Linked DNA regions of Homo sapiens. The protein of the gene in region 4 interacts with the protein of the main gene of each other region in a pairwise test. Each region holds a gene or a part of one and is shown on either strand. Other genes may lie near its edges.

Region 1 (3,483 bases), on a different chromosome or scaffold from region 4:
GTAAAAAAAAAAAAATGATAACATGATCACTACCCATGTATCATTACCCAGGCTTGACAGTGAACATCTTTCTGCTGTTCCTGTACCCACTCTCCAATTTTTTGGTAGTACTTAATTTTGAATTATAAAAATGCCACATGCCAGCCGGGTGCGATGGCTCACACCTGTAATCCCAGTACTTTGGGAGGCCGAAGCAGGCAGATCACGAGGTCAGGAGATCGAGACCATCCTGGCTAACACAGTGAAACTCCGTCTCTACTAAAAATACAAAAAATTAGCTGAGTGTGGTAGCGGGCGCCTGTGGTCCCAGCTTCTCGGGAGGCTGAGGCAAGGAAGTGGCTTGAACCCGGGAGGCGGAGCTTGCAGACAGCAGAGATCGTGCCACTGCACTCCAGCCTGGGCGACAGAGCAAGACTCTGTCTCAAAAAAAAAAAAAAAAAAAAAAAAAAAGTGAGTGTATATGTAACTTGTCCACAAAAAGAATTATACATTTTGTACTAGAATATATTTTTATTGCATTTTGAGTGTTTTCTAAGTTAACACAAAGAGAACTACGTCGTTTTTAAGAAGTGGCTGGATAGCATTCCATCCTGTCAGGATATGGAAATGGTTTTCACAGTGATTAGTAGGCAGGTAGGTAGGTAGAGATTAGATAGACACACAGAAACATGGTCATGGAGCTATCCTCACGCCTGACTTTCCTGTGACAGTCAAAGTCCTATCACTGGTTGTGATGGGTGTGTCTTTGCCTGAACTAGGTCATGCTAAACTGACCTCTCCAGTGGCTGTACCAGTTTGTTCTTGGTAGTGTCTGAGAGATTCCATTCCGTCGCTTTGCCATCATTTGGATTGCTAGACTTTTTAATATTTGCCAGGTTGGTGTATCTCAAATAGGATCTCATTACTAGCATTAGCAGTTCCCTGACCAGGTCTCTGTTCACATGTTTCCAGACTGAGGTGGCCTTTCTGTAAATTGCCTAATTGTTTCTCTATAACCAAACACCTTTCTGATGTTTTTAAGTTATTTTTGATAACTCTGTCATTAATTCTGTGAGTTCTATCAGCAGTTTCACTGCATGCATCAGGTATGTGATACCATATGCCGGTAATGGTCATTTTGTCTTCTCCTCTTGTATCTTTTTTGTTTCCCCTCACAAGACAGAGTTTCACTCTTGTCACCCAGGCTGGAGTACAGTGGCGTGATCTCGGCTCACTGCAACCTCTGCCTCCTGGGTTCAAGCGATTCTCCTGCCTCAGCCTCCCGAGTAGCTGGGATTACAGGTGCCTGCCACCACGCCCAGCTAATTTTTGTATTTTTAGTAGAAACGAGGTTTCACCATGTTGGCCAGGCTGATTTTGAACTCCTGACCTCAGGTGATCCCCCCCAGCTTGGCCTCCCAAAGTGCTGGGATTACAGGCATGAGCCACTGTGCCTGGCCCTCCTCTCATGTCTTATTCAGAGCCTGATGGTGCGGTGCATGCTTCTAGAACAGTAGCGATGGGTGTGCCTCATGACCGTAATGGAGCTGCTGCTCGCTCCACCGTTAAACACCATGCTGACTTTGGCTGAGCTGTATTTTTTTCTTATCATGTTATGGAAATGTTTGTTTGTTTTTGTTTGGTTTGGTTTTTTTTTTTTTTTTTTTTTTTGAGACGGAGTCTCACTCTGTCACTCAGGCGATCTTGGCTCACTGCAACCTCTGCCTCCCGGGTATAAGCAATTCTCCTTGCCTTAGTCTCCCAAGTAGCTGGGATTACAGGCACCAGCCACCACGCCTGGCTAATTTTTGTATTTTTAGTAGAGATGGGGTTTAATCATGTTGGCTAGGCTGGTCTCGAACTACTGATGTCAAGTGATCCGCCCGCCTCAGCCTCCCAAACTGCTTTGATTACAGGTGTGAGCCAATGCGCCTGGCACCACCTCAGTCTTTACTTACTTCTGTCCCGTTGCCTGTGGTTCTGGAAGTCTGACTGGAAAGGGGTCTGTTCCTGACACCCCACCTCCTCTTCCCTCTCTCAGGTGCTGGCTCCTTTGGTTGTATTGGGGTAGGGAGGAAAGAGAAGGGAAAGGGTAGCTCACGCCTGTAATCCCAGCACTTTGAGAGGCCGAGGCAGGCAGATCACTTGAGGTCAGGAATTCGAGACCAGCCTGGCCAACATGACGAAATCCTGTCTCTACTAAAAATGCAAAAAAAAGTATCCAGGCGTGGTGGTGCGTGCCTGTAATCCCAGCTACTCAGGAGGCTGAAGCAGGAGAATCACTTGAACCCGGGAGGCAGAGGTTGCAGTGAGCAGAGCCTGTGCTACTGCACTCCAGCTGGGTGACAGAGTAAGGCTCTGTCTCAAAAAAAAAAAAAAAAGTTTCCCAGAGCCCATCTAGTAGGGCCACACGGTGATGGCATCTGTCTCTTGGCTCCTGTGTGGTCACCGGCCATGCCCTTCCCTGACCTCAGCTGCTAGCCCTCAGCACATGTGACTGTGACGTCGTGTGGCAGCTGCTGAGTCCTGAGATGTTTTTAATGGCTGTTTGATTCCCAGGTTCTTCACCTACCAACGAGGGGAGAGAGCTGTGGTTCTCCATCATTGGGGGAGTGGAAGGGAGCTCCCAGCGCAGCCGTGGCAGCCACCTTCCAGGAGCAGGGGCTGGAATGTCCTGTGGCCGCATCTCTCATGGACGCGGCTGAAACGTGTTTTCACAGGTGCTGTTTTCTGTTTTCCGTGTTCGTAACAGAAGGGAGGGGAAAGCGCAGCTACTGACAAGTAGAACACTGCTACTTTTTTTAAGGCAGTTTCTTGTTTTTTTAGACGGAATTAGTCCTTGGCTTCCCTCCCAGTCCCAGCCCTGCTTCCGGCTGCGAATGTCCCTGAGTCAACACCAATAGAGATTGCTTTGTGTATTTTGTAGGGTTCTCTGTTTTGAAGACAGAATTATGTTACAAATGTTTTTGTTGTAAATAAATAAAACACTTCCTTGTCCTTGCAAGATCCAGTATAAGTGAATTGCGTGGACTCAGCTAAGCTTCCAGAGTCCCCAGGTGGGCAGGGGGAGGCCATTTGCCAGTGGGGCTGGGGCTCAAGCTCTGGAGCCAGCGGTTCTGATTCACCTGATAACGAAACGCTGCACACCAGGCTTGGGGTTCCCTAAGCCCGCTCCCAGTGTGGGGAGCTGATGCCAGCAGCTTAATGGAAAGTTGAAGCTACTTCACCCTCCCATACCCCGACACCCCGGGATCCTTGTCCCACACAGCCCTGAGGCCACCTCACCCTCCTGCGCCCCGACACCCCGGGCTCCCTGCCCCACACGACCCTGAGGCCACCTCACCCTCCTGTACCCCGACACCCCGGGCCCCCTGCCCCACACAGCCCTGAGACCACCTCACCCTCCTGCACCCCGACACCCCGGGCTCCCTGCCCCACACAGGCCTGAGGCCATCTCACCCTCCTGCACCCCAACACCCCGGGCTCCCTGCCCCACACAGGCCT
Region 2 (3,500 bases), on a different chromosome or scaffold from region 4:
CAAAACCCTGTCTGTACAAGAAATACAGAAAATTAGCCAGGCATGTTGGTGTGGACCTGTGGTCCTAGCTACTTGGGAGGCTGAAGTGGGAGGATCACCTGAGCCTGGGGAGGTCGAGGCTGCAGTGAGCTGAGATTGTACCACTGCACTCTAGCATGGGCAACAGGGTGACCTTGTCTCAAAAAAAGAAAGGATTTGGGTTGATTAGTAAAAACCATTTTTCTTATAAACTACATGTTAAAAACTGATTTTGTTCTTTTCTTAATTCTTTTTTTTGTCTTCCTCCAGGGCTCCCTTAAGGAAAAGACAGTTGAAAATCTTGAGAAGTATGTAGTCAAAGATGTAAGTAATATAGGGGAAAATAGATCTGCATAATAGCTCATTTTACCTATTAGGGAAATTAATAACAAGCTGATTTATAATGAAATGGACAAAAGAAGAGATTTGTCTTGGCATAGTATGTGTCGGGTATAATCACCAAGAATATTCAGCTAGAGCATAGGTCTTAGTAGAGTTTTTCCTGTTTCTTGATAGGCAAGAAGACTCAGTATTTCATTTTTCCTGTTTCTTGATAGGCAAGAAGACTCAGTATTGCATTTGTTCGCTTAGCTTCAATTATAATAGCAGTTAGAGGTTTACTGTATGCACATCATCACCATGCTAAGTGATTACATGCATTATGCCATTTAATCTTCTGTATGACCTTGAGTTAGGTATTATTGTTGCCTCTGTTTTATAGATAAAAAACCTGAGAAATAGAGGGATTAAATAACTTGCCAGAGGTCACACAGTTAGTAAGTAGTAAAGCTAAGTCACACCCAAATCATAACTACTGCACTAGATCATCTCAAAAATGTGCATATATGTTACTGTTATTTAAAATGCCTTTAACCTGTCAACAGAGAGTAATGAGGAAAGCTTTAAAGTACCTTAAAAGGCATTAGTGGCAAACCTGATAAAATTTTTTAAAAAATCTGTGGTTAATAGTATTGTACCAATGTTAATTTCATACTTTTCATAATTATACTGTGGTTATATAAGATGTTAATATTAAGGGAAACTGGAGGAAGAATATATGGGAACTCTTTATTTTCACAGCTTTTCTATAAGTCTAGAACTGTTTTAGAATAAAAATTAAACACACATAGTGCCCCAAGATGACATACTTCTTTCTTTTCCTACAGAGTAAAAGTAGCAGAATACAGTATTTTCTCAAAGTACTGTGGTAAAGATTTCTTGTTTTCAGTTTTTGTGCTTCCTATTTTCACCCACCTCCCTTATTTCAAGAAAGAACACTGAATGGGGAGGGTCCGGGAGAATTTGAGTGAAGGAATCTATTTGCTATGCGAGAAGGAAAAGATATTTTTCTTTCCAGGCACATGAGGGGTTAGAATTTCCTCATTTAAGCGCACGTGGGTGTGGGTATTTCTAGGTAGCATCTGCACATGTCATTTCATTCTGCAAGGTGTTTTATAAAACCATAGTGTACACACTGAAAGCCATATCTAATAATCTCTATGTAGAGCATGTTTAAATCAGCTTCTGCTGACCTTTAACACACCTCACATACTTCAAGAAATCTCAAGGTAATTTAAACTCTTTCCTGAGGCAGACATCATGAGGAAGGTAGAGATATGTTGTTAACAGCCATATAACCCCTATAAATATGTGTATAATTTTACATGTAAATCTATTACATACACTGTGTATACTACATATGTTAATACTTTATTCATTTATAGTGATAATGTGGGCTTTTAAGTGCAAAATTCTGAAATCAGCTAACCCTTAAAAGGTTCCCCCATTCCTGTTGTGGACAGAAATCCAGTATTTGACAACTCCAAAGTGTAAAGATAAAAATGTTTTCGTGTTTCACTCATTATCCAATTACATTTCAGGGAAAACTGCCTTTGCTTCTGAGCCGGATGAAGGAAGTAGGGAAAGTATTTCTTGCTACCAACAGTGACTATAAATATACAGATGTAAGTGCTTCATGTGTATATTTATTTATGCAGTGGAATTATTTTGGCCTAAAGAACTGTGAAGACAATGAGGAAGATAGAAGTTTATTAAGTGAAAATAGTTTCTTGCCTTCTCATTTTCAAAGAGTAAAAAGGCAAAAATATACAGGATAACAGTGGTTCTCAAATTTTTCTAGAAATTTATTTTAACCATTTTCACTGATTATAATTGGCTACTTGAAAATTTTAATCTTGGGGTTATTTAAAACATTTGTAAAGATTAAAATGGCTTTTGTGTCTCTTTGGAGCATCATTTCTATAAACTTGAGCAGTCACACCCCTTATTGATGTGTATGTATGACTTTCCCTGCTGTTGGAAGACCTGCAGCAATAGATGCTGCACAGATGTTTTGGCTCTTAGCTGTCAAAATTTATATATCTTTTTTTTTTTTTTTTTTTTTTTTTTGAGACAGAGTCTCACTCTGTCGCCCAGGCTGGGGTGCAGTGGTGCGATCTCGGCTCACTGCAACCTCTGCCGCCTGGGTTCAAGCAATTCTCCTGCCTCAGCCTCCCAAGTAGCTGGGATTACAGGCACCTGCCACTGCGCCTGGCTAATTTTTTTGTATTTTTAGTAGAGACGAGGTTTTAACATCTTGGACAGGCTGGTCTTGAACTCCTGACCTCGTGATCCACCCACCTTGGCCTCCCAAAGTGCTGGGATTACAGGCGTGAGTCACTGTGCCCAGCCCAAAATTTACTACCTCTTAAAAACAGTTTTTTCCCATGATTAAAGCATGTGGAAAAACTGATCTAACTCCTTAACTTCATCTTACTTTTGCTGAGACACTTAAAAATTTATAGTACTGGCAAGAAGTTCCACTTCCCCCAATTCGCTGTACATGTAAACTTGATTTAGACACCTGGTGATTTGTAGTAAACAGTCTTACATAAACCGTTGGTTTGTTGACTTAGTTGGTCTAGGGATGGCAGTAGCGAAGCCAAGGTGATAGGTTATTTCTGTGTGAGTCATTAGTTTTCTCTATACCCCTACCTCATATGCTCCTTTCCTCCAAATGTGTGTTCAAAAACATCTTCCAGAGGAAGTATGTATCCTCCCTGAGAATGTCAGAAGCCTTTTTTTCTTTTTGGTATATGGTAAAGCATTAATTTCTGGCTTCCACTGCCATGATTTCATAAAATTTAGAGGAAACAAGAATGTGGTGAGTCCTATGTTGAAAAAGACATGTTTTGTGAAAAGCTTGTAATTTCTTTAGGTTATATACCTTTTGCAAAAGTAGTATATGGACCTTATGTTAAATTTTTTTTTCCAGAAAATTATGACTTACCTGTTTGACTTCCCACATGGCCCCAAGGTACCGTATGTGACTCAATAGACCACTGCTTTAATAACAATGAATGCATTTAATCATTCTGGAATATTAAGGGGGAAAGAATTGGTCAGAACCCACCCAGAAAAGTCCTACTTTTTAAGCCTATTGTCTAATCTTCATTAACATTAGAAGTAATCCAGGAGCTAGT
Region 3 (3,500 bases), on a different chromosome or scaffold from region 4:
ACTACATGAAAATTTTAGGCCGGGTGCGATAGCTCACACCTGTAATCCCACACTTTGGGATGCCAAGGTAGGCAGATCACTTGAGCCAGGAGTTCAAGACCAGCCTGAACAACACAGTGAGACCTGGTCTGTACAAAAAATACAAAATTAGCCAGGCGTGGTGGTACGTGGCTGTCGTCCTGTAGTCCCAGTTACTCAGGAGGCTGAGGTGGGAGGATCGCTTGAGCCCAGGTGGGGCAGAGTTTGCAGTGAGCAAGATCATGCCACCGCACTGCAGCCTGGGCAACAGGGTGAGACCTTGTCTCAAAAAGAAAAAAAAAGCTTTTTTAAAGATAGATAGAAGAAAATGTTTGCAATATGTATAACACATACAGTATATAGAACCCTCATATCAATATATATAATTTCCAAAGAAAAAGTGGATAAAGAATATGAGCAATTCATTCACAAAAAATACAAATAGCCAAAAGACATGAAAAAGAAAAAAACATTGTTAATAAAATAATTTTTTAATCTATCCAACTGGCAAAATTAAAAGGGTTGATGATATTCAATTTTGGTAAAGGAAGACATAGGCACACTTGTATATTGGCACAAACTTATTGAGAGCAGTTTGACCAAATTGCGCATGTCCTTTGACTCAGAAATTCCACTTATGAAAATCTACCCCCACAGAAAGACTGTAAGATACTCATGAGGCTGAACATTTTTTGAAACAAAGTCTATCGATATTGGGGTAAGGAGATTTGTTTTGTACACACAGTGGAACACTAATTATAAAGTCGTCAAAAAGTATGAGGTAGACTGTATATATTCCTGTGGAAAAATATAAATGAGATGTTAAATGAAAGAAGCAAGTTGCCAAGCAATATTTGTAGTATGGTTACATATCTCCAAATAAATGTGTCATATGTATGCTTTTAGGTACACCAAGGTGGGACTGGAAGGGATCACAGTACACTGTTAATAGTTATCAAATTTGTTCGTCCTTCTTTAAAAAGAAAATTTCAACTTAATTATATCCCTTTCACATTAAAATGTCAAATAAAATTGGGGGAAAAGCCACCTACAGCCCCACCACCCATAGGCTAGAATTTTTACATATTTTTTGCCAGTCTATTTTTTTTCTTTTTTTTTTTTTTTTTTTGAGATGGGAGTCTCCCTCTGTTGCCCAGGCTGGAGTGCACTGGCATGATCTCAGCTCACTGCAACCTCTGCCTTCCAGGTTCAAGTGATTCTCCTGACTCAGCCTCCCAAGTAGCTGGGATTACAGGCACATGCTACCACGCCTGGCTAATTTTTGTATTTTTAGTAGAGACAGGATTTCACCATGTTGGCCAGGCTGGTCTCGAACTCCTGACCTCAGGTGATCCACCCGCCTCAGCCTCCCAAAGTGCTGGGATTACAGGCCATGAGCCACCACGCCCGGCCTCTTTTTTTCCAACCATAGGATTTGGTCTCTTGTTTTAGACAGTTATTATCTGATCCTCTCTCTCTCTCTCTTTTTTTTTTTTTTTTTTTTTTTTGAGATAGAGTCTCACCCTGTCACCCAGGCTGGAATGCAGAGGCGCGATCTCGGCTCACTGCAACCTCCGCCTCCCAGGTTCAAGCAGTTCTCTGCCTCAACCTCCCAAGTAGCTGGGATTACAGGCGTCAGCCACCACGCCTGGCTAATTTTATATATAATATAAAATATAATTATATATATATTTTGTTTGTTTGTTTTAGTAAAGACGGGTTTTCACCATCTTGGCCAGGCTGGTATTGAACTCCTGACCTTGTGATCCATTGTCCCCCCCCCCCAGCCTCCCAAAGTGCTGGGATTACAGGCGTGAGCCACCGTGCCTGGCCACATCTGATCCTCTCTACAGTTTTGTAGCCAGCTTTTTTCAAACACATGCCTCAGTTGTAGTGGCTGTTTAATATTATGTTTTTATAGTTGGAGGCCCTACTCCTTAAAACCTATGAATGTAAACCTCCCATGCAAGCCTGAGCACTCACCATGCTCACCACCTGAGCTCAGGTGGGGAACAAGCGAATGAGAGACAGGACCAGGTACTTTCTGGGTGGGACAAGTTGAGAGGGTCTGTGACAGGTCACAGCAGCACTAGGGAGAAGTGCCCCCCCCCACCAACCCTGATGTGATTTGGGTAGGGATGGTGGGCCTTCGCCAGCCACACCTGGGCCATTCTGTCTTCTTGCCTTCCTGGCCTTGCCTTCCCCTATTCCAGCTTTCTGCCAGGTAAACAGTACTTTCCAGCACTACCAAATAAAGATTTAAGGACTGCTAGCCCATTTCCTCTTACCCCGGGGAAAGAAAGTAGGTCCACAGGAAGGAAGGCTGCCTCCCTCCCCTTCTTCTATCCCCCAAGTGAAAGAGGTGGTTGGTGGCCACAGCAGGTGGGCCTGGCCAGGATGCCTGGGTTGGCAGTGAAGGAAGTAGCATGGCACTCAGCTAACCTTGGGCCAGATGCAGCAAGGTTGGGACTGAAGAAAAGGGGAGTTCAGGAACGTCGGTTCCTCTCCTGTTTTCTCTCAGCCCATGGGTGAGACCCTCTGTCACACTCCACTCCCTTTCCCCTGCCCTAGGTCAGCAGTCATTTGGAAAGAGCTTGCTCTGCCGCCGGCCATAGTTGTTGCCGGTTCACCTCCCCACCCCTCTCCCATCATCCCCTGGTAAGGCTGGCTGAGAGAAATTCCCCTGAAAACATTTATTTTACTCAGTTTATTGATAAGTGATAATAAAAGATAAGTATTACATATTTGTGTATTTATTAATGGCCCAGAGTAGAGCATTCAGATATTTTCCCAGTCTGATATATGGTTTCAGGTGAGAAAATAAGGGATTTATATAGTGACAATATTTTTAAGTGAAAAGTGGAATACATAGTCAAAGAATTTGGGCACTGCCTTGGTGGCTGGAGGCAGGTCAGAAAATGTCAGTTGGCATGGTAGAACTTCTAGGACGCTGAAATAGTTTGTGGAGACACAAGTAAGAATTTTTTTTTTTTTTTTTTTGAGACGGAGTCTTGCTCTGTCACCTAGGCTGGAGTGCAGTGGCACGATCTCGGCTTACTACAAGCTCCACCTCCCGGGTTCACATCATTCTCCTGCCTCAGCCTGCCGAGTAGCTGGGACTGCAGGCGCCCGCCACCAGGCCTGGCTAATTTTTTGTATTTTTTAGTAGAGATGGGATTTCACCATGTTAGCCAGGATGGTCTTGATCTCCTGACCTCGTGATCCGCCCGCCTCGGACTCCCAAAGTGCTGGGATTACAGGCGTGAGCCACCGCGCCTGGCCGAGAATATTTTAAACTACCACACTTACCATGCATGTGGTAAACTATCAGTCTGTATTTATCAGTGATGGTTATTTCCTAATACCCAGGAGGCATCCATGTGAGCCACCCTTCCATTGCTTTAAGACCAAGGGAGCGAGTGACCAGCAGGATTCAAGATGGCAGCTCTGCCGAGGAGTGGGAGTCCCAGCTAACTTCTGCT
Region 4 (3,500 bases):
AAGGTCTCTGTTATTAGCCCTTTGAATAAACTTTCTACCCCTATCTCTTTCTCTACTTCTTCTTTAAGACCAATAACTTAGATTTGCCCTTTCCAGCCTATTTCCTAGATCCTATAGGTGTGCTTCATGTTTTTTATTCTTTTTTTGTCTCCTCTGTGTATTTTCAAATAACCTGTCTTCAATCTCACTAATTCTTCTGCTTGATCAATTCTGCCATTAAAGGACTCTGATGCCTTCTTCAGTACGCTTTTTGCATTTTTCAGCTCCAGAATTTCTGCTTGATTCTTTTTAATTATTTCAATCTCATTGTTAAATTTATTTGATGGAATTCTGAATTTCTTCTCTGTGTTATCTTGAATTTCTTGGGTTTCCTTAGCAGAGGTTTTTTTTTTTTTTTTTTTCAGGAAACACAAATTTTCATGAAATTTGAAAATTCAAACCACAGCATGACATTAAGAAAACACAAATATTACTTATCCAGAAGAAAAAGTGTTTTGAACTTTTTCATAAAATATTTAGGAACAAGGAAGTTGAAGCTTGGAGCGGTAGAGTGAGAAATAAGGAATATGTGGGAGAGAAAGTAAAGTGAAAAAAATTAGATCAGATTTTTTTTTTGTTGTTGTTAGCACTAAACTGGTTTGCTTCAGGCCCCTAGCCAGGGTTGATTTTGAAACCTATAGCAGAGCTATTTTGAATACTCTGTCTGAAAGGTCACATATCTCTGTTTCTTCAGGATTGGTCCCTTGTGCCTTATTTGGTTTATTTGGTAAGTTCATATTTTCCTGGATGATCTTGATACTTGTGGATGTTCATCTGTGTCTGGGCACTGAAAAGTTAGGTATTTACTGTAGTCTGCAATCTTGGCATGTTTGTACCCATCCTTCTTAGGAAGGCTTTACATGTATTTGAAAAGTCTTGGGTATTATGATCTAAGCTATATCTGCTTTAAGGGGCACCCTAAGTCCATTATAAAACTAATGATGAATGTGCAACAGATAGTGTTATAAAATTTAAAAAGAAAATTGTTACTAAAATTTTTATTGACAAAAACAGATCTATAACTGTTTGAACTCCCCAAAAGGTAAGAATTGTACTTTGGCTCTGATTTATTAATATGATATATCCTTTACAAAAAAATTTACCTAGTATTATATGTTCAATAGTTTTTATTTTCATTTATAAATATAATTTTAGTCATTTTTTTGTCCATCATAAATCCCTTTTTCCTTCATACTGATTTTTTTCTGCAAAGACCTTTAAAAAACTATTTACCTAGGGTTAGTTGCAGCTGAGGCTGCATCATCACAAATCCAGAGTTGCTCTTCTTGTATGTCAGAAAAAGATCAGTGAGGGAGATGAGTGTGTACAATGCAGTTCTAAAGTCACAGGTGGACCTATAAGCCACCATCATCGCTTTGGGAGACATAGGCAACAGAAATCCTAAGTGCTTCATGTAAACTAAGTCATTTAATCCCCAAAACTACCTTATGAAGAAAGTACTGTTTCCATTTTTCAAATGGGGAAAATGAGAGTTAGAGACATTAAGTCTTGCCCAGGTCTTTTGGACTCTCACAAATATTCCTCCATAATCCCCCCCTCCAAAAAACCCCTTTATAGTTTCCTGGATCTTCTCTTTAAGCAACACATTTCAGGGCCATGTCTCTTGCTGTAGGCTGCCAGCAAATGATAGCAGCAGTAGCACCAGCAGCAGCAGACTTATCAGATTGGTGTGCTCGTTGCACTCAGCATGCTAGTAGTACCAGGCCCAGTTGGTATTTGTTGATTGATGATCATAGTATCATCAGGAATGGAATAGCTTTCTGATCAGTATTATTGAAATGAGGCCAAGGTACAATTTTGCTTGGTAACATACGCTTAAACTTACTCTTGAACTGAGAGTTTGGATTTTTTAAAGTATATCTGTATGGAAAAGATTGTTAATTTCATATGATCCACTGTAAAGCTGGACCTTCCTTTAAACAGTAGCAGAGAGAGGTGGTGGTGTGATTTATTTCTCCAAAGACTTGTTTAATCTTCAAATATAATTTCACTTGCAATTCCAATATTGGTCAATATTTCCATAAAATCACCTATTTTTTGTTATAAAACTTATATGAATTTTACATTCCACTCAATAACATATATTTATATACACATATATGCATGTTGCAGTGTAAAAATTGTTTACGTTACTTACCATCGAGTAAGACTGGTGCTCTAGGAAAGTTCTCTCTGTATAGACAGAGACCTTAAGACTTTAAGATACTAAGGCTTCTGGGTATAATAATACCACATTGTCCAGTTCAAGTCACTTCAAGACTTCTGGTATAATAATACACATTTTCCTTTAAGACTTTAAGATTTCTGGAACAAAGTGTGATTATGTGTGAGGGATCAACTCTTTTATTATGTATAACTTATATTTAAAATGTTCAAAAGAGGAAAAATGATTTGGCTTCTTTAAGAAAGTCTCTTTTTGATGCAGTGTAATCTTTAAATGTTCCTCATAAAGTACTTTTGATAGAAGTTGGAATCTTCAGGGAAGAAGGAGCTAATGATTGTCTGTGTAATCATTAGGTTGTGGCATTCTCATCAGAGCATCTGTGACAGACAACTCAAGGTGTATCTATGTGCTACTAAAGTGTTAGTTTCTCTCTCTTGAGTTGGCCCTGGAAGGCTAGTGATATGGAAATATCTGAGTCATAGGAAATGTAGTTTCCAGTTTTGGCTCAGTTATTAACCAGCTCTGTGACCTTATGCTAGTCATTTATATTATCTGGAGTTCAGTTTCTTTATCCATAAAGTGAAGAGTTAAAACAAAATGATATATAGCTTTAATAGCATTTGAGGAAGGAAACCAAGTTCCTCCTTTTTTCTAGATTTGGCTCAACAAAGCTGAAAAGTAAATTTTCTTTAAATTTTAAGGGTGGCTTTGGTCTGGATGGTGTGTGTATGTGCATGTGTGTCAGGCAGGTAGTTGAAAGGCCAACCTCACTGTGATGTTTTATCCCAAGTCCAGATGTACCACTGTTATATCTCCAGGTACATCTTTTAACTCTAGGAAGTAAACACAGTTTTTACTGTAAAGGTAAACCAGAAAGTTAAGTTTAAATCAAGTTTGAATATAATTTGTACTTGGAGTAATAAACCTTTTCCCACAGAGGAAACAGCACTAGCTTGGGAGTTCGTTTCCAAAAGCTCTACTGAACAAGCACAGGTTTCAGCTCACTTTTGTACCTGTTTCTCTGTCCCTTGGTGGGCTCCCTCTACCAGCTTCTTAGGCTTCTCAGTCACTTGTCTGCTTGACTTGAGACTCAGCACATGTCTTACGAGTAAAGACAACGCAATGAATGTTGGTTTCACTTCAATGGGCTTCCTGTCTTTCTGGATCTTGGATCCTCAGATCCTGGCTGCCTTAAAAGCTCTCCAAATCTTTGATATCCTACTTTTCTAGTTGTTCTTAGAAGTAGCATTGGTTTGCTGTGAGCTACTTTGTCATA

What was found. The genes of interacting proteins can lie anywhere in the genome.
Region 1: the proteins of NME7 (region 4) and FKBP6 interact in binary tests that used the Homo sapiens proteins (3 or more experiments, as listed by UniProt).
Region 2: the proteins of NME7 (region 4) and NT5C2 interact in binary tests that used the Homo sapiens proteins (3 or more experiments, as listed by UniProt).
Region 3: the proteins of NME7 (region 4) and NFKBIL1 interact in binary tests that used the Homo sapiens proteins (3 or more experiments, as listed by UniProt).

What each region holds. Positions count from the first base shown.
Region 1 is NC_000007.14:73,355,643-73,359,125, forward strand, and holds the end of FKBP6 (inactive peptidyl-prolyl cis-trans isomerase FKBP6), read left to right. Parts: intron 1-2,538; 3' UTR 2,539-2,983; downstream 2,984-3,483. UniProt on the Homo sapiens protein: Has an essential role in spermatogenesis. It is required to repress transposable elements and prevent their mobilization, which is essential for the germline integrity.
Region 2 is NC_000010.11:103,095,773-103,099,272, reverse strand, and holds part of NT5C2 (cytosolic purine 5'-nucleotidase), read left to right. Parts: intron 1-288; coding exon 289-342; intron 343-1,184; exon of another isoform or gene 1,185-1,225; intron 1,226-1,898; coding exon 1,899-1,982; intron 1,983-3,292; coding exon 3,293-3,334; intron 3,335-3,500. UniProt on the Homo sapiens protein: Broad specificity cytosolic 5'-nucleotidase that catalyzes the dephosphorylation of 6-hydroxypurine nucleoside 5'-monophosphates.
Region 3 is NC_000006.12:31,554,108-31,557,607, forward strand, and holds part of NFKBIL1 (NF-kappa-B inhibitor-like protein 1), read left to right. Parts: intron 1-3,500. UniProt on the Homo sapiens protein: Involved in the regulation of innate immune response. Acts as negative regulator of Toll-like receptor and interferon-regulatory factor (IRF) signaling pathways.
Region 4 is NC_000001.11:169,326,298-169,329,797, reverse strand, and holds part of NME7 (nucleoside diphosphate kinase homolog 7), read left to right. Parts: intron 1-3,500. UniProt on the Homo sapiens protein: Possesses an intrinsic kinase activity. Displays 3'-5' exonuclease activity with a preference for single-stranded DNA. Does not seem to have nucleoside diphosphate kinase activity.